3 separate regions of the Homo sapiens genome follow, and all the other regions are linked to region 1. Evidence: fine-mapped expression QTL. A gene starts in region 1. Each other region holds a variant in brackets. All regions are shown on one strand. Distances are from middle to middle.

What was found. PIP is the estimated chance that this variant, and not a neighbour inherited with it, causes the effect.
Region 2: its variant is fine-mapped to the expression of TCF12 in whole blood (INTERVAL, PIP 0.92).
Region 3: its variant is fine-mapped to the expression of TCF12 in stomach (GTEx, PIP above 0.99).

What each region holds. Positions count from the first base shown.
Region 1 is chr15:56,915,043-56,923,268 of GRCh38, reverse strand. It overlaps TCF12 (transcription factor 12), which reads right to left and starts at 4,625. Exons shown (of 21, transcript NM_207037.2): 1 at 4,363-4,625; 2 at 3,281-3,377; 3 at 2,171-2,243. The coding sequence starts at 3,355. It overlaps TCF12-DT (TCF12 divergent transcript), which reads left to right and starts at 4,770. Exons shown (of 4, transcript NR_015419.2): 1 at 4,770-5,729; 2 at 6,057-6,204. RefSeq lists silencers at 3,586-4,025, 4,076-4,365, 4,456-4,505, 4,676-4,805, 5,326-5,465.
Region 2 is chr15:57,066,075-57,074,074 of GRCh38, reverse strand. All of the region lies in intron 4 of TCF12 (transcription factor 12), which reads right to left. Among named protein-coding and RNA genes, the nearest start is that of TCF12, 150 kb to the right of the region's middle. The variant G/C (reference allele first, on the strand shown) is at 4,597.
Region 3 is chr15:57,488,129-57,496,410 of GRCh38, reverse strand. All of the region lies in intron 8 of CGNL1 (cingulin like 1), which reads right to left. It also overlaps the pseudogene RIDAP3. Among named protein-coding and RNA genes, the nearest start is that of GCOM1, 100 kb to the left of the region's middle. The variant T/C (reference allele first, on the strand shown) is at 3,460.

The DNA of each region.
Region 1 (8,226 bases):
TCAGCTAAAAAAGCTTCTGAAAGTATTATATATCGTTTCTCAAAAACAGCCCACTGTGAAATTGAGTCTTCCTCAAAAAGGACAAATAAGAAAGGAAATTACAATACCTGACTATAAACTCTAGTTTTCATAAGTCAAATGGCATGTAGTTTTTATAAATGTTACTCCAAAGACAAAACAGAAAACAAACAAAAAACCCTAATCTTTACTACAGCAGCTCTTCAAAAGGAAAGTCAGATCTTTAGCTCCTTAATAGCTGCAAATACATAGGCATTAGAGTGTATTACATAATATCCTTTGAAATCAGGGCAGAAGGTTATTCAAATGTCAATAAGGTATATAAATATAAAATATATAAGTAAAATAATGTTACTATACCAATTTCTTTTAGACATTCCCTTTAAGAACTGGCCACAGAAAAATTATATCTACCAGTACATCTTGATTTGAAAAAAAATCACATGGCATTTTCTCTTCCCCAAATTCAAATCCATTCACTAATTAAAAGTCACAGCTTTTTTATTACAATTTTTTGTAGCATTTAAAACAAAACACACAGATAAATATTGCTAAGTCCACTGACTACAGGTGTGTAAGTTCAAACCTTTCAATGGATAACAAATCTAACTTTTAAAACTAAAAGTTCCTACTCCAAATAATCAAATATGGTGACCATTCGCAATGTAGAAAAATAATTTTTTCTTTGTGCAATGCAACGTACTGAAGTCCAAAAATTGCTCCAATGCCATGCTTATAATCTATATCCCAGTTCACATACTTTTTAATTTCACAGACTACATAAATCCTTCTTAAGTTTAAAAAGTGAAATAAATGTAATTGCCTTTATTCTAAAAATAGAATGCACTTCTAACAGCAAGTTCCTGGAGTTCATGTTATTGTATCAGTGACTGTCCAGTTATATATATTTACCATAACTTAAGCTGGAACAGTAGGCAACAGTAATATCAAGACTCATTTTTAAAAAATACTAAGCATCATCTACTATGTATTAGTCAAAGTAAATCTGAAGGTTCCTGAGAATGAATTATTAGTTGCAAAAATGAGATGTATCAACACCAGTAAAGAAATACAGCCATCTTCTACAACTTTAAGATTATTAAATTTTCTCCCCCCTCCCCAAAAAGTAACAATTTTCAAATGATTACCAGTAAAAGGAAGGAGGTGAGAGAAGAGTTGGGACTTGCCTATCGTTTCATGATGTCCTTTTGATCAAGAATAATACTAGTCTTTACCCTACTTAAAATCCAAAAAATGCCTTCATTTCACTTACTTAAGATGATTAAGGACATGCTATACTTTCCCCATAAGCTCTAATTTCATAATTAAAAATGAATTTTAATAAATTAGTATACAATTTTTAAAAACAAACTTTTTAGAATGTAAAGTGGTATAAAGTGTTTAGGTGGTTATGAAATTAACCTTATTTTCTGATGTTTTATTCTCACAGTATTTTAAGAAACCAACTATCATTTTACCAGGGGAAATAAAAAGCACCCATCAAAGAGGCATTACTGAGTTTCAGCCCAGAGATTTGACAGTTGGTTTTCTTAAGATGATGCTGTCATGGCTTTAGTTATTTTTTTCATCTCTTAAGCACAAAGAAATAAATTTAAATTAAATAAAAAGTTACAGCTTTTGCACACTGGAATGGACCTTCCTTCTAAAATATTTTTAAATTATGAGTTTTTAAAAGTTAAAAAAAGAAAAAATGCATACTTAAGAAAAATGGGATGTTTTAAAATGGAGCACAGTAGTCATAAATGTATTGAAAGTAAATTTAAAGACAAGATCACTAGTGTGTAGATCTACTTTAACTTACTCTAAACATTATCATAATGTAATCTGGATATAGGAAAGGATTCAGTCATCTAATACTTATCATTTAAAAATAAATCTAAGTTTCTATTCATTTTGAAAATTTACCCCACTAACATTTTAAATAATTGTAAACGAAACTACTGATTTCCTACAGATTTCTGAGGGAACTGTCATCTTTTAAAATTAATAAATCTTACTAATTATCACTTGACTCAATTCCATCTTTTATATACATATATTCAATAATATTTAAATGTTATGCTTTCTATTTTTCTACTAAAATGTATCACACCACCAAAATATGAGTCTTTAGTTTAAGACATCATCTTACCTGATCCACTGAATTGACTGCTTCCCAGTGTAGTTGGTCTAGTTTTCCCACTATTAACAGGTGGGGAAAACATCTGCAAAATAACCCAAATATATCTGTTAGTCCTGAAATTCTTCTAGATTCCTTGCAAACAAAAGTCCACCAAAAGTCATCCATCAGTTATTAAATTTCAGAGGGAAGTTAAAATAAAATTGGAGATACATTCAGATCCAGAGAGGCAAATACACTGAATGATACTATTTCCTAATTAATTGGAAATAATGGTTACATTTTGTTCTGAAGACCCGATCATTTACATGGAAGAGTCCAAGATTATTAAGTTTAAACAGTATAGTATTACACATGATCTTTACTGCAGAACTAAGTGAATTTCATTACATTTACATTATATCTCAATATACACAGTCAGAATTATGGCCCATTAAATTACTACATACAGTAAGGATTATAACTGAATTGTATAAAGCAGGTATAGGTGCTGCCTCCTAACAGCAGTTAATAAAGGAATTAAACCCATTAAAAATAAAAGCAGTGGGCCCTTAGGTTTCAGTTGATGTTTTTAAGTCATTTCCCATGTTAAGAACATAATACACACACACACACACACACACGTGTGTGTGTGTATAAAATAAAAGTACTCTGTTTCAGAAGGCTCGAAATTCTAGCTCTGGACTACTTTTCTTGTCGCTGACATCTTTCAGGTACCATAAACTACATCTGATACTGGAGAGGAAAATGGTGAGGAGTACTGAAGAAAAAAACAACACTTTTTCATATAAAGTACAAGATCCCCAATAATCATCGCGGTGGGAGGGTGACTCAACCAAAGGTCATAATTACATTGTTCTCCTTTTAACTGGTTAAATCAAATGACCCCTCTGGCATTAAAGTTTTAAATGTGCAAGTCTAGACATTACATCAAAGTTCAGGTGTCCAACTTGGGGGAGCTGGACTCCAGCCCTGAGAACTACTGCTTAAGCAGAAAGCAGATGGAGTTCACGCTGCCTAGTCTCCACGTTGCTTCCCCTCACCCTTTATTTAAAAGAAACAAACAAACAAACAAACAAAAACCTCAGCAGAACCCCAAGATGCCATGGAAAGCTCTCATACCGCACTGAAGTCCAGTAGGTCGCTCAGCTCCTTGTCGGTCCCTATAGCGGCCATGCGTTGTTGCTGGGGATTCATCTTCGGCCACTTCTAGCAGGTCCTAGGGCAGAGGAAACGGGCTCAGCGAGAGACCACCGAGGCCCAAAGTGTGTGAGGGAACAGAGAGAGGTACTGGGGAAGATTACGCAAGAGCGCTGGGGGCGCCGGGATGACTTCCAGGACCCCGACTCGCTCCCACCGCGGCGCGAGCAAGGGGCGGGAGGGCTCAGTGCCCGCGCCGGGTCCCGGAATCCACGCGTTCCTCGCCGCGGCCCGAGATCGACGCGGCGGCTCCCGCAACTCGCCGCCTCTCCCCCAAGTTTCCGAGCCAGTCTCTGCCACCTCCTCGGCGCCCCCTGCTCCGCGCCGCCGCCGGGTGCTCCGCGCGCCGGGCCCGGCCGCGGCTGGGGTCTCGAGGAGCGGGGTGAGGGGCAATTCGGCGTCCAGCGAGCGGAGCGGCGGCGAGCGGAGATGCGAAGTGACTCACTCGCTCGGCAACAATAGAACTGACAAGTTGCAGGGAACGCGCCGCTCGCAGGCCCGCGTCTGCGGCCGCCGCCGCCCGGACGTCCCCGGCGGGCCCAGGAGGTCGGAAAGCACCCCCAGCTCATCCAAGGGGCGTTTTTAAACAGAAAACAGAAACCCCGACAACTAGTCTCGCTCTCGGCCGGCGTCCTCCTCCCCAGGCTCGGCCTCCTCCCACTTTTGCTGCCCTGCCCCGGACCTGCCGAACAATGAGCCTGGCTCCGCGGCCGAAGCCGCCCGATCTCCCGCGCGCCCCGGAGCCTGGGCGCCGGCCCGAGTCGGGCACCGAACGGGGCGCACAGGCCGAGCGCGCCGCCAGCGGGCCTGAGCGCCCGCGACTCGAGCCTCCGCCCCCACTCCGCTCCCCAACTTGGAGGGGACCCCGGGTTTCGCGCTGTACAAAGGGGCGCGGAGTTGAGGCGGGGGACGGGGGCGCCCCCACTCCGGCAGGGACGCGGCGGCGCCCCGCAGCCCCCAGCCCCGCCGCGCCGCCCCACTCCCGCTCGCTAGCCCGCAATTACCTGCCGCCCCGTCTCCGCATCCAACCACCCCGATTAAAGTTCACTTTGGCCGGGAGAACGGGCTTGGGCTTCCCCTTGCACCGCCCAGCGGCTCGGTTCACTTTGCCCCGCACGAGCTCTCGGGTCTGGGAGGGGGAGGCGGCTTTCGGGCCTGGCCGCCCCTTCCTCCCGGGGCGGGCTGTCGGTCCCCCCGAATAGAACTTGTGGGTCTCTTCAGGCGGACATTTTTTTCGCTGAGGCGGCCTCACCACCGCGCTCGGCTCGCCTCCGGATCCCTCCGCGCCGGGAAGAGCCGCGGGTTAACCCTTCCCTCCCCGACCCGCTCCGCCGCCTAGGAAGTGGGGCCGGCAGAGGGGGCGGGGAGGAGCTGTCGGGGACTGGGAGGAGCCGCACCGCGGCGGGTGGACAAAGCCCGCGGTCGGGTGAGGCGGGACGGAGTTGGGGCCGGTGGGGAGGGGCATGAGGCGCTCGCAGGCACCTCGAGAAGCAGGCCCCGACCGCTCGCCGACGAAGCCTCGTCCGGGCCTCCTGGGAGCGGGGTGGCAGGTACCGTGGCGCCTCCTCGCGTTGGTCTTGCTGGTTCTCGGCCCCCGAAGCGGAGCGACGGAGACACAGCTGTGGAAGCATCTGGATCCGCTGCCCAGGTCCCCGAGCTTCCCGGAACCCGAGGCCGCAGGACACTGAAGGCTGCCATTCCCGAGTAGGTCACGCTGGACGCCACCCTAAGCTGGGCCCAGAGGCTCCCGTCCAGGAGGGCTGCAGTCGGCGCAGACACCGCGCGTGTGGAGACGGGAGACCCATCCTCCTCGGCCGTTCCGAGAGTAGGCGCGGCCGGTCAGATTCGATGCAGAGCCGAATGCGGGAGAAAGGGCAAAACGTACCTCAAACCAGACAAAGCCTTGTGAGCTTCAGGTTCTCAAATACCCCACTCACCCAGACCCCACATCTCCAGTCAGCCCCTCGCACCCAAATCCCATTCGGAGCAACCGAACTGCACGTGGGACTAGTTCTTGGGAATGGATCAAGCCAGTCTCTTCATCTAACGGAGACAGCCCTGGGTGGCTCTGTCACACAGCCACTGTCTTGTGCACAAGTTCTGAACTTGGCCTCAGAGAAGCCCCAGAGTAGAAAGAAGACAAAATAAGCCCCAGTTCTTCGATTCTGGGCTGAAGTGAGATTTTCTTGAATGGCAGCCATTGTTTTGCCTCTTAGGTAAGTGAGTGCAGTAAAGACCGGTAAGGCCCACGCAGAAGAAACACTGAGGAAAGAAGACACTTCCAAAGTAACAAATGGGAGGAAGCAGCCAACGCCCGAGGACAACATGGCAAGAAGGAGCCTTTGGATTCCGGACTGGGATGGAAAGAGAGGTAGATTCAGCTACCATATGCCATTACTGTAGTTAGTACAGTTGTCTCTATATCCGTGGGATTGGTTCCCAGACTCTGGATTTTCTAAGATGTTCAAGTCTCTTACATAAAAATGGTGTGTTTCCCCATATACTTTAAATCATATCTAGATTACTTATAAAACCTAATACAATGCAAATGCTATGTGAATAGTTGTTAAGGTGTATTTAGGAAATAATCATCCAAAGAAATCTCTATATTTTCAGTACATTTTCAGGCTATATTTTAGGCTCTATATTTTCATGTATTTTCAGGCCTGGTAAGCCTAACTACATTTTTTGTTTTCAGTTGATTGAATCCCGGAATTTGGAAACCCCAGATACGGAGGGCGGACGGTACAACCGGAGCTGTCAGGTGGATTTCCAAGGCTTTGCATTGGCTGTACCTGAAACTTATGGTGGCCTAGACTCCCCAGTATCCACTCTTCCTTATCTTGGTAAACAAGCCCAGTTCTGAGTCACATCCCTGCTCTGCCTACTTACAGGGGCATGTGGTCCCAATCTAAGCAACGTAGCATAATTCCAACCTAAATCAGCAGAATCCCATTCCCTGCCACAGTTATTGGCTGGCAATGAGCGTAACATATTTGGGCCAATGAGAGGAGCAATTTCCTGGTCTTTGTTGGGAAAAGTTTTTCTTTCATTTTCTGAGAGCGCTTCAGAGGTAACCCATTCTTTCTGCATGTCCTCAAAAAAACGGGTCCCCTGGATGGTGGGTAGCCATCTTCCAAATACAAGTCTAGCCGGGTTAAAATAAAGAAGACATCAAGAAAACAAACATGCATAGAGATCTGATCTTTGGTGACTTTTTTTTTTTTTTTTTTTGAGATGTAGTCTGGCTCTGTCACCAGGCTGGAGTGTGGTGGCAGGATCTCGGCTCACTGCAACCTCCGCCTCCCAGGTTCAAGCGATTCTCCTGCCTCAGCCTCCCAAATAGCAGGGATTACAGGTGCGCGCCACCATGCCCAACTAATTTTTTATTTTTTTAGTAGAGTCGTGGTTTCACCATGTTGGCCAGGCTGGTCTGGAATTCCTGACCTCAAGTGATCTGCCCTCCTCAGGCTCCCAAAGGGCTGGGATTACAGGCGTGAGCCACCGTGCCTGGCTTTGGTGACATTTTTGAGGCTCTGAATCAAGCAACTTCTGAATTCAGGTCTATCTTCACTGATTAGACCAATAGGATTCGAATTTTCTGTTGTCTGTAATCTAGTGTGGTCTACACAGTACCACCCCAATGACCATTTTTTTAGTAGCAAAGACATAAACGTCAGGTAGGAAGTCTGATTAGATCATTTTTAAGGCCCCATTCCCATGTGTTTTAGTTCATTTTCTCCTACTGCTAACAGAATACCATAGACTGAGTGATTTATAAAGAAGTTTATTTGGCTCATGGTTCTGGAGCCCGGTAAGTCCAAGAGCATGGCACTGGCATCTTTAGAGGGCCTTCTTGCCGTGTTATCCCGTGGCAAGTGAGCACACACAATAGAGAGTAATCCATTCATGAGGGCTCTACCCTCTTAGAAGTTTCTCTTAAAGGTCTCACTTCTCAACACTTTTGCATTGGGGGTTAAGTTGTCAACACATGAACTTTGGGAGACACATTGAAACCATAGCACTGTGATAAGATTCTATGACTCCACAGTAAAACTGGAAAGAAATCTTGCAGAAGGAGAAGGTATGTGATCCCACATGTTGGATTCATGCTGTTTTCAAGATTCTCTTCTCATCCTGCTCACACAACTAGTGCAGAGGAAGAATATCTGTCTGCCCAAACCTTCAGTCATAGGGGCTCCCTCATTACTTAGGGACTGATTGGTGAAGTTTTTCATATCTATTATGGCCCGTATAGTTTTACTTTATAATTTATTTTCCTTATTAGATTGTGAACCCCTTGAGGGTTCGGACTGACATGCATCTGTCAGTACCATGCACCTAACGTAGTGCCAAGAGCATAGTAGACCCAAAAAGGAGGAGCTGGAATTAAAGCTATCATTCATTTGACATTATAACATGAAGTTATTTTTCATAATATAGCCTTTGCTTGTGTCATTTTTAATAAGAGAAAATGATTCCCACCAGTGAATCTCCTATAATAGCTCTGACTTATATAGAAGACAAAAAGAATATAAAAAGTGGAGTTTTGTATCACTTATAACTCATTTCTGGGCCTTTGCTGACACATCTAGATAGGGCCAGAAGCCTTTATTGAAAAGCTCAGAGAGAAACAACTAAGTAATACAAATTCAGTGTTAATTAATAGTACTATTTGTGTAGTATAAGTTAATCCCTATCGATAAGTTAATATTGAAAAGTATTTAATGTGCATTTCTCACATGCCGGGCATGGTGTTAAATGTTTCAGGACAGAAAGTCTAAAACCCATACTGCCCTCAAGAAAGTTATAATCTAATAGATTTTTTTTTTTGAGACAGAGTCTCACTCTATTGCTCAGATTAAAGT
Region 2 (8,000 bases), 150 kb before region 1:
AGTACCGTTATCCTGAAACTTCTAAGGCCGGGCGTGGTGGCTCATGCCTGTAATCCCAGCACTTTGGGAGGACGAGACAGGCGGATCATGAGGTCAGGAGATCGAGACCATCCTGGCTAACACGGTGAAACCCTGTCTCTACTAAAAATACAAAAAAAATTAGCCAGGAGTGGTGGTGGGCGCCTGTAGTCCCAGCTACTCGGGAGGCTGAGGCAGGAGAATGGCATGAACCCAGGAGGCAGAGCTTGCAGTGAGCCAAGATTGCGCCACCGTACTCCAGCCTGGGCGACACAGCGAGACTCCGTCTCAAAAAACAAACAAACAAACAAAAAAACTTCTAGTGACTCTGTCCTTCAAGTCCTGCACAAGTAGAAATAACTGTTCTGGGGGTCTCTTTTATAATTTGGCAAATGCAACACAGTAAAAAGGGAAAGTAATTTAGAGACAGCCTGGATAAAGTCCTAAGCATTTAATATCTGATAAGTTATCTACCTTTTCTGAGCTTCAATTCTGTCACCTCTAAAATGGAGAAGATTTTAAAAATGGCTTCTTGGTGAGCTCGTGTGAAGATCAAAGCAGGTAACATGAAAGTGTGTAAACTAAATTGTGACAAGTGCTGGTTATGATTTCATTGTTATTAATTTAAAAACCCAAGTGGGTACAAAAAAGTGTCACCCTACTTTTTATTCCCACAAATAAGCAATCTCTAAACTTAGGGAAAAAATATTAAACAGGCTGTCAAGAAAGACCTCAACAATTACAAAAAGGGACATAAAGATTCAAAGATTAATATGCTTTGATTTTTACTTGTTAACTTTAAAATCTGAACAGTTAGAAGATTAAAAAAGAAAACTATAAAGATTAGATCAGTCCTGATCAAGATGTTATTTCATGGGCCTAGAAAGTTAATCACAGTAAGGTGAGAAATTGACATGAAGGTTATTTCCAAAAAGATCCACAGCAAAGCCTCTCAGTAAGTGTTGTCCCCAGGAAGAAAGGCTAGTCTGAAAAAAACAGAAGCTTTAATTGTCTTAAAATGGAAACATGGGCAATCTGATCAGTATGTGCTTTCTTTCACTTTAAATATCTGCTAGCAAGAGATTTAAAGGTGCTTACATCATCACAACCCAATTTTTTCTTATCCAAAAACATTTAGGTTATAATTTATAGGCAGGTGCTGTTTCAAACAGAACTAAGAGTAAAAACATTTTACTCTTCTGGCTTTATTTAAACCTAACTTTAAAACACACCCTTTTTCTTACTCATAGTTTTCTTCACATTCAGAACATTCAGAAGGAGCAGTTACATAACAAAACAGAGATTAATGGGAACACAGATGCAATATATAGAAAACACTTACTTTAATTCTCTGACCCTTCTGTCTTGCTTTGCTATTTAACTGCTTCATCTCGTGTATTGTACCTGAGATCAAGAGGCATAAAATACTATTTCAAAATTCGTGTGTCCTTTCTAATTACTGTATTTGAACTCCTAGTAGCTATAAAATGTATACCTTTTTCCCCTTCAAAAATAAAAACAATAGCAAACACACAATTTTGAGAAAATATCTACACTAGAGAAGAAAAAGTAACACTAATCTTTATTACCCATCAATGCTGACAAATGGGACAACTGAGTAAAAGCTATTTTATATTTCTTTATTCACACAACTCGATTTTCCCATGTATTAAGGAAAACTATTTATCAAAATCAAACAATCTGTTTTAATACAACCATAGCTAACTTGACAAAGCCTAAATAAAACACATGAAGTTTAATTCAGGAGTTACCATTTTGTGGGTGAAGTGAGTCTACATGATTTTATATCTTTCCCAGTCACTTAGTTGTACCAGTTTTGTGTTTTCCCCTTTGTGAAATTTCTTATATAACTTTGCAATCTGATTACTATCCTCCCAATCCAAGTCTTATTTCATTATCCGTGGGTCCATGTACCATCTTTTCAGATCATCCTATTTTTTGTCACTCTTTCACCTTGGATCCATTCTTCATACCACAGTAAGTTAATATTTATAAAACATTTTGTGTATAAAATCTATTTTTAATTGGCTCCCAAAGAATAGATAACATTTTTTTCTACAGAAATGTTAACCTGCCTTATCTCGTACTATTTTCCCACAAAGTAAGCTGATTTATTATCTACCGAATTTTGTAATGAGACCACTGTACTGTTTCCATCATTCCATATTTCCAGACTTTCTTCCAGCCCTATTCAAATGCTATCTGTCCTGTAACAGTCTACTCAAACACTTCCTCCTCTATTAAGTCTTTCTTGACCATCCAAAGTAATCTCCCTCCTCTGGAATCTCACAGTAGCCAAGAAAATTATTTTCGTAATTAACTATTTGTTGCCTAATTACAGCATCTCCACTGCTGTCTTAAAAGAGTTAAGAAGTTTTTTGGGCTGTGTTTGTTTTTTGTTTTTTGTTTTGAGATCGGGTTTCACTCTGCCATCCAGGCTAGAGTGTAGTAAGGCTCATTCTAACCTCCGCCTCCCGGGCTCTAGAGATTCTCCTGCCTGAGCCTCCCGAGTAACTGGGACTACAGCCAACACCACCACACCCGGCTAAATTTTTAAGAGATGGGGTTTTGCCATGTTGCAGAGGCTGGTGTTGAACTCCTGGACTCAAGCGATCCACTTGCCTCAGCTTCCCAAAGTGCTGGGATTACAGGTGTGAACCAGCAACTTTTTTTTTTTCTTCACTACAACCTCAACCCCTGGGTTCATGTAATCCTCCCACTTCAGCCTCCTGAGTAGCTCGGACCACAGGTGCGCACCACCAGACCTGGATTTTTTTTTTTTTCTATTTTTTGTAGAGAGGGGGTCTCATTTTGTTGCCCAGGCTGGTCTCAAACTCTTGGGCTCAAGCAATCCTCCCATTTTAGCCTCCCAACGTACTGGGTTTACAGGTGTGAGCCATCACGCCCAGCCTAAAAAGTAACTCTTTAGGCAAATATGACTTACATGTCTAAGCATATTTCCTGAACTATAAGATACACATTTATTCACCTTTAACATTTAAGAAACTGAATGCATTTACAAATCTCAACATCTTAAAATTGGGGGATCAGGGTAAGTCCAACCTCCCTAAAAGCAGGCCAACTATACTGTTCTTATGCCACTGGACTCTGTTGGAGGAAGGAAACTACAGGTTGCCTCTGCCCATAGATACACTCTTAAGGCATCTGCTGTCAAATGTAAATGAACTACCCACCAGTTCCTTCTACACCTCCAGCCAGTATGACCCTGCTGAGGTCAGAATGACCTGTGTTTTTTGTATAGATAGCACATTAGAAAAACCAAGGTTCTATTATCCTATTTCTAACTCACTACCTACAAACTATAGAGAGGTTCTTAGCCAAACTCTTCCACATTAACGAAAAAATACTGAACTCCTGTTAAGAATGGAGAGAGCGCTAAACAAAATTAAAGTTCCCTTTAGCCATATCTGGCAGGAATGGTCCAGGATTTGCAAGAAAAATGACATTAATCTCATCCAGATAATCTTATAGGCTGATTTTACTTTCCCATAGAATCTGAAAGCTTATGTTTACTTTCACTGAGTTTTTATTTATTTTTGTTTCCCTTATCCCAAGGCCCCAATCTATGGCTTTGTCTATGAACTTTAGAAGACTGGAGAAATACTTAAATCCTTGTACCCACATATTTTCATTTTCAACCTAGTTGGGTCTATGGTCCGTTTTTGTTTTTAACAACTGGTCTGTGAAAAAAACCACTGCTGATGCTTTTTAAATGAACTGAATCCTCATATCCCTTTATTGCTATAGGTATCAGAAATCATAGCATGTATTGAAACAAAAAGCCTCAGAACATACCTATTACTATCCCTTAATAAAAAAAAAATCCCGGATATCATCTTGTGCTGAATCATATACAGCAGCTAAATCAAGTATTTTAAAGCTAAATCATCACCACACAACTGGTTTTCCCCTTTCCACTGACAGGTATAAGCCCCAAACTTTAGTGAGGAAGTTATTATTAGTACCCACCCCCTTTTAATCAATGAAAAAAGAAAAAAAGATTAAAGTAAAAACACATAACTTGCTCAGAGTCACAGAGCAATGAGGCAGAAGTGCCAGAAATAGAACCCAAGACAGCTTGATTTTAATGCTCAAGCTCTTAAATTCTATGCTATTCTACCCAATACACTATACTTGCTAAACTGTTCTATCATATCATGTCCCATGTCCTCTTTTATCAGCTGCAGACCCTCTTCTATTTTCACCTTTCTCCTCTCTCTTTTCCCATTCCTTCAGTATATGGCAGAAAACGTAAAGTTCTTTGAGTTGGGAAGTACTAAAGTCAAGGGGTTAAAAAGCACTAGCATAAGATTCAGAATATCTGAGTTCTGTCATGCCAGAGGCTGTCATTAACTAGTCACATAGCCTAGCCAAATCTCTACATACAGCACAAATCTACACCTGGTCAAATCTCAAACATGTCGTTTCAGTTTCCTCATGTAGGAAATAAAGAGACAGAACATATATAACCAATGCATCTTTCAGTTTTGAAAATTCTATGATACTGTAAAACACAGAGGGAAGAAAGAGCAAAAA[G/C]ATAAATGACTGTTTCATTCTGCAAGCCATAATACAGACAGAAGAGAAAACCATGGTGGACATTTAGCAATTCATTTTTTTAAAAAGCACTCAAACTCTACTCAACTTAATATTGCTTCTTTTTTAAAAAAATAACTACCATAATAGATTACATATAAACTGAAAAATGTTCATGATTAAAATGCCAACTCTTGATCACTGATGATGCCTATAAATGTAATTCCTATCAGTGGTTTCCTATCAGTGAACTCAATTCTATCTTTTAAACTAAGGAATGACCAACTCTGTATCTTAGAAAAGAGTATCAATATACTCCTCTCTCCTACTCCCACCCCAGGATGCAAACCTCAATGGTACTTTAATACTCTACTCCAGAGCTTGGCGTAGGTTGGCTAACACAGTTAAAAAGGCAGAGAAACCAAGATGACCTGGCCTCTTGACATTTCCACAAACTCATATAACTCGACATTCTAGAAACAGAATTTGTACATCAAGAAATATAACCATGAAAATGTACTTCAAATTATTATAAATAACAATATAATAGCAGTTCTCACTTATTATATCAATAAATGAAATACTTCATACCTATTATCACATTTCATCTTCACCAAAACCCTACAAAATACATGTAAAATTATCATAATTTTAGAGACCAGAAAACTAAGACACATAGAAGTAACTTTCCCATGGTCACACAGTACAAGTTTCCAAATCACTTATTATTACCATTAATACCACCACCACCTACTTCAAGCTTCACCTTAAATCAACTTTGATTCTTTCCTTCCTCAACCTCCCAGCCTAGTTAATCTAGTAAATCTGATGATTGTTCCCGAATTTGATTATATTCAGCAAACATGTATAGAGCACTCATCATGTATAAGGTGTTATACTAGAGAGACTGATAACTTTTATATCCAAGTTTGGCAGGAAGAGACTGTTGCTTTCCCAAGAAAGAAATAAACAGTTGAAGAGGGGAAATTGATTTTATTTATGTCCTTCATACATTTAAAATAAATAAAAGTAGTTAAATTAAGCATGACTGAGTCGGCAAATAATTCTCATTTATTACACTTAGAATACAGCATATTTGCAAATGTATCCATGTGTTTAAATTTGTGTAATTGTTAAATATAGATCTAATGGGTGAATTTTGAGATACACAGGTTTAAAGCCAACACTTATATAGCACTCACCACATATCAGACATTGATCTATGCAATTTCCATATATTGCCTCATTTAATCCTCAACAACTTCATGAAACAGATATCATTATCCCCATTTCACAGATGACTAAACCGAAGTACACTAGATTTAAATAACTTGTCCAGAATCACACAGGTAGTAAGTGGCAGAGTTACGATTTATACCCAAGCAGTATGATTTCACAGTCTGCCCTCTTAAGCACAGCCTTCTGAAGAGAAAAAAAAAATCTGAAACTAGAGTAAGTCATTAACACCTTAGTGAACAAGAACAACCACAATATTCTCTGGCCTTTATGCCTGGTACACCAACATTTCTATGCAATAAAGAATAAAAAGCAAGGGAGAGAGGGAACAAACTCATTAACTAGATCTCTTGCCCATGTCTAAACTACCTGAGATTTTAATCACTCCTTTCAGTCTCAGGTGCTTTACCTTTATCACCACATTCACAAATTTCTAAAACTGGAAGTGCTATTCACAACATGATTCTATCTATATGTTCATGTGTGTGTCTATGCTCTCTGCACAGGTAGACAGCAGATGAAGAGTGCAGAAACCAGGACTCTAACAAAAGTAGAGAGGAAGGAACAAATGTTTGTTCCTTCCCTCTGGGTGTCTCAAACATGCTGAGACATGCTTAGGAAATGTGAAATCCACATTGCCTAAGAATGCTGACCATGCCTACCATTTCTTCTATAACCACTCTTTTTTTTTTTTTTTTTTTTTTTTTGAGACGGAGTCTCGCTCTGTCGCCCAGGCTGGAGTGCAGTGGCGGGATCTGGCTCACTGCGAGTTCCGCCTCCCGGGTTCACGCCATTCTCCTGCCTCAGCCTCCCAAGTAGCTGGGACTACAGGCGCCCACCACTACGCCCGGCTAATTTTTTGTATTTTTAGTAGAGACGGGGTTTCACCGTTTTAGCCGGGATGGTCTCGATCTCCTGACCTCGTGATCCGCCCGCCTCGGCCTCCCAAAGTGCTGGGATTACAGGCGTGAGCCACCGCGCCCGGCCTATAACCACTCTTAGGTACAATGTCTATTTTTATGTCAACCTAGCGAAACCTCTTCACTGAATGGATTGCTGTAGGTACTTCTGATAACCAGAAACTTAATCACCTCTAAACTGCGAGGCTACTTTTCTGGTGGATTTGGTAAAAGCAAGGGCAGACACACAGACTGGAACCATGCTAGAGTGACTTTTCCTAATTCTGAAAGAATGGGGATAAGCCTAACACAGAGATAAGAAGTTTGTGACCGCTTAATACATAACTCAGGTGGAGCTCATTTATGCATCAAGGCTACTATAGTAGAATGGTATCTTACAATTAAAGTCAGGACCCTGTAAGGCAAATAGTGTACATAGCAAAAATTTCCCTTGAAAAGCTATTAAATAAAGAATAAGTTCAATCAATATGACTTTGTGTAACTATTCCCATACAGTAACATATAACATACAATATTAATAGGGTTCATCTGCCAAATATGGTTTCATATTATTGTAAAGAAAGTATTGTTTCTCCCTTATAGTTTGGCATGGGAATGGGAGAGGGATAGAATGGCAGGCAGCTCAGATAGTTCAATTCATGTTAAGTTTAAAGCAGGTATATTGTATCTCCAACAAATTACTCATTTTGCAGTTTCTAATACCCTTTTTTTGGCCTACTAAGCATTTTCAAATGTTATAAAAAGTATAATAAAAAATTTCTATTTAGTGATGTTACTGAAAATCAAATTATTTTTAAATAATGGAATCTGCTGATAGAAATGTAATATTTATATAATATGATAAAGTCTAAATAAATTTCATTTACTTGATTTCTACTGAAGTATCTGCAACTACATTGTTTAAGTTGACAAATTTTTAACTAACAAGTCAAAACTAGTCTTTAGCCAACATTAATATTTATTTTTGAATTTAAGAACCTCAATGTACTTAAATAAGAATTTAAGAAATTCAATATACTAAAATAGGAGAATGAAGTACTTTAGTTGAGATTCTTATCAACACAATTATACCCATTTATGCTTATGATTATGAAAGAAATGGTCAAGATGGTGAATACTGTTAAAAGATGAAACCCCAAAAGCTGATAATTTCCCTATAAAGTAGTACTGAGGGAGGCTTCAAAGACAACCATAAAGTTCTCCTTGGCAAGAAGAGTTGCCAAGGAGAAACTGGATCCAGATTTTTGTTTG
Region 3 (8,282 bases), 570 kb before region 1:
CAGTTAACAATAGGGTTTGTGTTCCTGGTCCCTAACAGGTCACAGACCTATACCAGTCCATGGCCTGAGGGCTGGGGACCCCTAGAGTAGAAGGCAGGGCTCAACCCAAATATCAGGTCAAGCACAACTCTTGATCTTCTCAATAGGTAATTCTGTTAAAAATTACCATGATTTTCTGAGAAACAGTCACGTTTTGGTTTTAAGGCCCTACAAGTAAGGAACTAAGGCTGTTTGGAGGGTTTTGTTTTGTTTTTAATGTATTTGTCGCCTTGGTAAGCCTGTCTAAGTGAGCTTTAGAATAACCCTGAGAACATTTTCCCAGGAAACACACACTTCCCTCCTCCTGTCTTTCACTCATTTATCTTATCTTGGAGTTCATGAGGCTCCATTCCACAGTCATTCCTGGTTATCAGTTTTGCTTTTACAAACAGCATTTATCTGGATTGCCAAGACATTCTTGGCCTTCTGGAAATATGCTTTCATTTTTTTTTGTCAATTAGTTGCTTTATGTGCTTCCAAAGTTATGTTTTCACATGAAAATAGATGTCTTCCCAATTCCCTTGGCCTTCACTTGGTATTAACAAAATTTACAATGGCACTGGGACCTAATGCTTTATTAAAGTCTATCTACATCAGGGAAAATAGGGCTGGTCACACTCCAAGTCATGTGAAACACCTCCCAAGACAATGTGGATTCATTTAACACCCTTACTTGGTGCTTATAAGTGCCTCCCCAAAATCATTCATCAGTGCTCTCATATGTAGAGCTTGAAAACAGTAGAGTGGCTATACCTTTGTATTTTCCTAGACGGAGAGTCCCTAGGGCTGATTATTTACTGTCATCCTTTCTTTCTCTCCTTAATGGTGTTCCTAGGTCAAAGGGGCAAACAAAGGCTGTTTTTGAATCATTGCAGGTATAAAACCAGAAATTCACATTTTACGAGACATTTGATTTTAAAGAAACAAGCTGGTAATAACCATGAGGAATACTTGACACAGAAGGGAGGCCTTCCCACAAGACAGCTCAATGCCACCTCGAGGTCTCAGAGCTGGCAGAGGTTCCAGAGTCACTGCATCTTACAATCCACCAAGATGCTGGTAATGAGACCAACACCAACTGGAAGGCATGGTGGTAAATGAGCTGACTGAGAAAGCAAAAAGGATACTGATGATACCATGCAAATGAGTTGCTGACAGCTGGTTTCTAAGTTACACGTGAAAACTATTTCAGAGATTTCACAGGAAATGCTTCCTGTAAAAGCTACAGGAAGCATCATGGTTTAAGGACCCACAGGGTATAGCCAAGTTATATGAACTGATCCTCTACCCTATAAAGCCCCCAGAAGGATGTAAAGAAAGATTTTTAAAAGACCTTCATTCAAGCCATTTCCAGTAGAGGTGATGAAAACAATCTTCACGGTTCCTGTCATACAAGGAATGAGTGATAAATCCCTAAGACAGGAGCAATGAGAAAGCTACTGCATGCAGAGAAGAGGAGCTACCTTCTGGCTTTACAGTTAGAATTATACATGAAGCACATGGAGACATTTAGAGGGATGGCAAACACGCCAGTGTCTGAGCTCATGCCTAGACACTCGAGTTTCCAGGGAACACCCTTGGCCAAAATCTGCTGGATGAGATGCCAGCTGAACACTGTGCACCATTGCAAGTGGCTAGAGTTCAGGAATGAACAGAAAGCCATAATCCAGTTGTTCTGGGATGGAAAATGTAATGCACACCAGTTTGCAATTAGTCTGAAATGAAGAATCGGGACCATTTAGCCCCAAACAGAAAGAACAGAAAGTTCATGGGATTGGGCCGATTCCCAAAACAAAATCCATCCCTCCTCCTGCTTTTACATTTTCTACTTCTATTTTTAATGGCTTAATCACATATGAGTAGTTTATTATAAGTTGCTCATAAATGAAGGGTGTTAAATGCTGAATCCAGGTGCAGAGGAGAAAAAAGGAACAAAGAAAAAGGGTGGTGGCAGAGGTGGACTCTTTCACAGCCTGGATTTCAACAGAACCACAGGAGGGTCCTAGAGACATGTAGAAGAGAACGAGAACTCCACCTCTGTACTTCCATCATAAACAAAGCTTCTTGGCCTCCATTTCAGAATACAGATCCTTCTCAACCCCTCCCCACTCACACACTATCCAGTTAGAAATATTCATTTGATGGCTATACCTTGAGAATAGTAAGTCACTAGTTGAACCTATAAATGTAAAACTTTTTAAATGGCAAGAACACAGGCATATAAAAATGACGGTCTTTGGAGCCTACATCCCTTGCTTTGCAGATTTATTTTTTAAGTGATTTTCAGGTTCATACCCCAATCAGTGTTTTCAAATCTCTCTCTTAGCACTTATTGTCCATCTCATTCTTCTAGGTACTGGGGGTTACACATGTGGTACATGAATCCATCCCTCATCTACACATATTTAGGAGAGATGCCTGGTTCTCTTGGGGATCTGGACTATGTCTTGCTTATCTTCTTAGCTCCAGTACCTGGACCAATGTCATATATACAATTGGAGCTCCATAACTACTTTTTATTTGTTGAAAACCTCTGATTGTGGAAAGTAACTATGCACCTATTATAACCATAGCAGATGGAAAGAACAGCATCGAATCTGAGAATATGCAATCTCACTAAATCCACTAAATGGTACTTCAAAGGTTTCTAAAACTTGATAGCATGTTTCCTTATACACATGAGTGTATCTGTGCTGCTGCCAGGGAGTGGAGCTTACGATCATCCAGAAGTCCTACTAACTCATGCGTCTTCATTCTATAGTTAATCCCCAAAACGGAAAGAAAAAGAAACAGCAGATATCATGTATCTCTTTTCAGTTTAATCAAGTTGATTTTTAATCCCTTGTTTCTGACCATTGAGATCATTGTGAATCTTGGTTCTGCCATATTGTACTTGGGCTGTCTCTGCCTGCTTTGGGTCACGTACAGTCTTGATAAGCATGCTTTCTGTGTCTTTATGTCATGAAAAACAAGTTAACATGACAGGACCAAGAGTCCTGTCATCCATCACTAGAAAGCTCCTTCCAAAATCTGTCTGTGGCCCAAATCTCCTTGCCTAGTAACCCTGTCAAAAGAAGAGAGCACAAGTGGAGTAATTCTGAATGACTGCAGACTTGTAAGGATCATCTTCTTCAGCTCTTACTTAAATTTTAATATCTTCAAAAGAAAGGCAAGAGGATCAATATGATTCAACTTTACCAGCATTAACTTCACTGCAAATTTGAAATCATAAACTCACTATCTAAAGTACTAATATTGGTCTAATGTATTTATTATGTTCTTTATCTTATTAACTCCTGGTATCAAACCAGACCTCAGAATCATACTCATACACTCACATTTAGCAGCTAGACTCGTCCCCTTATCCCACGTGCAGAAGGACAGATGTTATCTCATACTTCACAGTAAGGAAGTAAAATC[T/C]GGAAATAAAATGCCCATACCTGATGACGTATTCAAGACTCTGGGACAATTATTGTTTCTTCTTCAGTGATGTGTGGGCCTGAGGCATGTAGAGATGACAGTGTGCATGCCTGGATCTCAGCATCTACCTCCTCTCTCTGCTCATGGGTCCCCAGGTCCCCAGGCTAGCAAGGAAACTTGGGTATAACTTCCAGCATTATATGTCAAGAGAAGCTTTAATTCCCCTGAGGAAATGTTTTGGGTTTTTTTTTTCCTTATGGACAACAAAAGTCATGAAGTTGATCGTGTTTCCTTTTTCACTTTGCCAGAAGTCTCAGGACTACATCTCTAATTCACCTTCAAGATTATTGGACTACACAGCTGGGTTCTATTTGTCCTCACTATCCCCAGAATTGATTCTATTTACATTTATATTTCCTATGATCTTTTAGAAATATCTTTTTTATTTTACTCTATGTGCTTTTGTAAGTATTCTCAGATTCAACCTATGAAAAATGTCAATGTATAAACAAAGTTGCAAATCTATTGCTCACAAAGTTTCCTTGCAAATGAGAACCTAGCACTCCTTAATCTGTACACTGTTATTAGGTAGGATTGGAGTGTAATCCTGAAATGTGTGTGATGCCTCTGAGGAAATGAATCAAGTTAGGCCCACCTCATCTTTTGAATGTCAATTTCTAGGATCAATGAACTGATCAGATCCTCTAACCTCCCTTAAGATGTGCCTCCTATTGCCAGGTCTCCAGGTTCTGCCTTCACCAGAGTGAGAAACCTAAGGCTTTAGTTGATAAATCAAGTGTATGCCTCCAGATAAGTCATCATACCTGAGGATTTCAAAGACTAAAAGCCTTAAATGAAGTAATAAAGTCTCTGACTGGAAATATCTGGAAGTGAGCTTTCCTTAGTTTTTACCTAACGTCCTTTTCCAGCTCTTGATCCCATTCAGGATACCACATTACATTCAGTCATCATTGCTCCTCAGGCTCCTCTTGGCTGTGACAGCTCCTCAGACTTTCCCTGGTTTTGATGACCGTAACAGTTTCAGGAGTTACATATACTGGGCCAGGTATGTTTGCAGGAAGGAGGAGGAGGAGGGGAGTTGGTCCCAGTACTATTTGCATCTTTCTTGGGATGAACATATTTTTAAAGCACTTTTCTGACACATTCTCATTGCAAAACTTATGCTGTTCTCTAAAGTAGAGAGAGTAGGCATTTCTTTCTCTTCCTAAATTATTTGGAACTCTTCTATAACGGAGATTCATCTGTTCTTCCTACATCATGGGCATCATTATCCCGTTACTATTCTGCCTCTTAGCTACAATGTGAGCATCTTCGAGTACAGGGACTCAAAGCAAAAAGTGGTACATGTAGTGGATTCAGGAAACATATGTTCTAGGGCTCATTCTTTCATTGTATCAGCTAACAAACATGTGAGTGCGTCTTGTGTGCCAGAAGCTGTGCATAAAGATGAATGAAGAGCTCACAGCCTTGCAGGGCAGACAAGAGAGGAAGTTAACTGCAGTGCCAGTGGCAGAACAGAGATGCAACTGGTGCCACGGAGAAAGCAGTGGCACTGTGGGAAGGAGGCTGCTTGAGGATGACTTCACAGAAGAGGCACCAAACTGGGTGTTAGAATATTCCCCCAGGTAGGTTTTTCTAAACGAAAAATTATCTATAGAAAAGCTTTAGATTATAGAAAAACTGCTAAAATAATACAAAATTCCCTTTCATCCCACACTCGGCTTCCCCTGTTACTGCATCTTACACGAACATGGTACATGTGTCATAATGAATGAACTAATCCTGATCTATTATTATTAACCAAAGTCCATACTTTATTCAGCTTTCCTTAGTTTTTACCTAACATCCTTTTCTGACTCTTGATCCCACTCAGGATACTCCATCACATTCGGTCATCATAGCTCCTCAGGCTCCTCTTGGCTGTGACGGCTCCTCAGACTCCCTGGTTTTGATGACTGTAACAGTTTGAGGAGTACTGCGCAAGGTATATTTGCAGGATGTTCCTCAATTGGAATTTGTCTGATGTTTGGGGTAGAAAGACCATGAAGGTAAAGTGTCATTTTCAGCATATCATATCAAGGGTAGATACTATCAATGTGATTGATGCTGAAATTGATCACGTGGCTGACGTAATGTTTATCAGGTTTCTCTACTGACTCCCCAGTCCACCAGAAAAAGTGACTCTTTTCTCCCCCACTTCATCCTGTACACTCTGGAAGGAATTCACTATGTGCAGCCCAACTTCAAGAATGGGGTGTGAGCCCCTACCTACTTGAAGGCAATATATCTAAATAAATTATTTGGAACTCTTCCAGAAGGTAGAGTCCTCTATTATTCCCCATTTATGTATTCATTTACTTGTTACATCAGTGTGAACACCATGAGCATTTATTTTATTTTGGGGTCATAATCCAATACTACCTTATTTTGTGACTTTGGCCACCGGCAGCTTCTGTATTTCGTTCCTGTGTCCCTGTGCCATACCTCATCAATGTGAGTGCACACGCACGCGTGCGTGCGTGTGTGTGTGTGTTTGGAGCACTTCCTTACTTTCTGGCACTGCTAGGTAGGTTTTTATAATGTGGTTTCTAAACATCAAAGCCTGCCCACGTTAACATCATCTTCAAATGCATCAACGTCATAGAACTTTAATGCCAGAGAGAGCCAGAGGTCATAAATCCAGTATCCCCATTTAATATAAGATAAAGCAAGGTTGGAGCAGTTGCCTGAGGTTACACAGCTTTTTAATAGCAGAGTAACACAGCCACTATGAGAATTCCTGATTTTTATTGCTTATTTTCATTTTTTTTCACTATTTCAAGTAACTACTGTTGTCCATGTGTAAAAGTCCAGTCTACAGTAGAGAAATTGTGTCTGTCACGAAATCTCTCCAGGTGACCAAGTTACCATCAGTAAGGCTGCACACAAAGCAGGGTTGAAAATATGCTTCCCCAACCTCCAGACATCCAGAGAAAACGCTACTGTTTTTATTTTTCTAGTAACAGCTTAATTTTCCTCACAATCTCTCTAATTTCTCTCACAACCTCTCATCTACCTACAATGGCAGTAATCCTAACTTGAACTTAATAGTTAGTAGTATCTCAGTCACTTCTGGTCTAAACAGTCTCTTTTGAGCAGATGCTTTAATATCCAAGCTTCAGCACCAAAACTAATGTCTGGGAAACCACTTGAATGGTAGGGAGCCTGGAAAATAAAACTTAAGAGGAACAGAATAGTGCTAAGACAATTCAATGAGGCAAGAATCGTCTCTTCAACCAACAGTGATGGGACAACTAATATCTACATGCAAAAGAATAAAATAGACTCCTACCTCATACTATGTTCAAAATTTAATTCAAAATGAGTCATAGACTTAAATGTAAGAGCTAAAACTATTAAATTCTTAGAAAAAGAGTAAAGCTTAAATCTGCATGTCTATTTTCTATCCATTAGAAAAATATTATCTATATAAAGTTTTGGTCCATTTTCTATTTCTTTACCCCTACCATTCAAATTTAAATATTTTAATTTTAAACTAGTAAAAGCAGAATTACCAGAATCACATACCTGACATGATAACTAAATATATGACATCACTCAATTTATTGGAATTAGGTATGCTCTTGATTATTTCTCAGGAACAACAACTCATCTTTCCTACATGTTATTTCCCTGTTATTTGAGTAACTATGTAATGAGTATCTCTTTCCTACATTCAGTGATATGGGTGTGCATAAGTGTAATTTGTAACATCAGTAACTGGATTCACCATCTAACCTTCAATTCATGTTTAATTCTATTATATAGTATTTCCATAACTTTGGATACTTTAGTCAAACTTACACTTTTCATCAATTATAAAAATCAAGATGTTAATTAAGATGTTATATCAACTGTGACAATGAAGACGTTAAAAATTCCGGACTAGACAGCACTGGGCCCACTTATAGACAGGCTGTTGTGAGAGGTCCTTGAACAGCTACTGCTTCAATTTCAACCTGGCCTCCTTTGGGTAAAGCAGCAACATGGTAAGCAGCTCTAGTAGAAAAACCACTCTTAAAATACTGTTTGTAGATTACATTGACAGCCCGGAAGTCATTTGTGTCAGCTAGCCAAACAGTTGTTTTTGCCACATTAGTGAAGTCACAGCCTGCAGCTTTCAAAATATCACCCATGTTCTTAAGGGCCTGTTTAGCTTCTTCTGTTACCCACTCTTGGCACAAGCTGTGCACTCGAAAGGTTCATGCCTAGCTCTCCTGAAATGTAAAGGATCCCGTCAACTAATGCAGCTTGACTGAAGGGACCAGTGTACCCTTGGGCTTTCTCAGTGTTGATCACCTTTATGATCAAGGATGACATGGCTAAGTCTTCTCTCTTGCACCCCCTTCAGTAGAAGCAGTCCCTACACCAGTTCTGCTCACTTCTCACTCGACTGCAGAAGAAGAGAAGGTCTTCATGACCTTGGATGAGGAAATGGTTTCTTAGATACAACACAAGTACCAACAGAAAAAAGAGTAAACTGGACATCATGAAAATTAAAAATCTTTGCGCTTCAAAGGATAGCATTTAAAAAGTGAAAAGACAATCTGAAGAAGGGGAGAAAATTTTGCAAATTAAATATGTACTAAGAGACTGATATCCAGAATATATAAAGAACCATTACAACTCAGTAATAAAAAGACAACCCAATTTTAAAATAGGCAGAGAATCTGAACAGATAGCTCTCCAAAGAAGACATACAAACGGCCAATAAGCACATGAAAAGATACTTGATATCATTAGTTATCAGAGAAATGCAAATC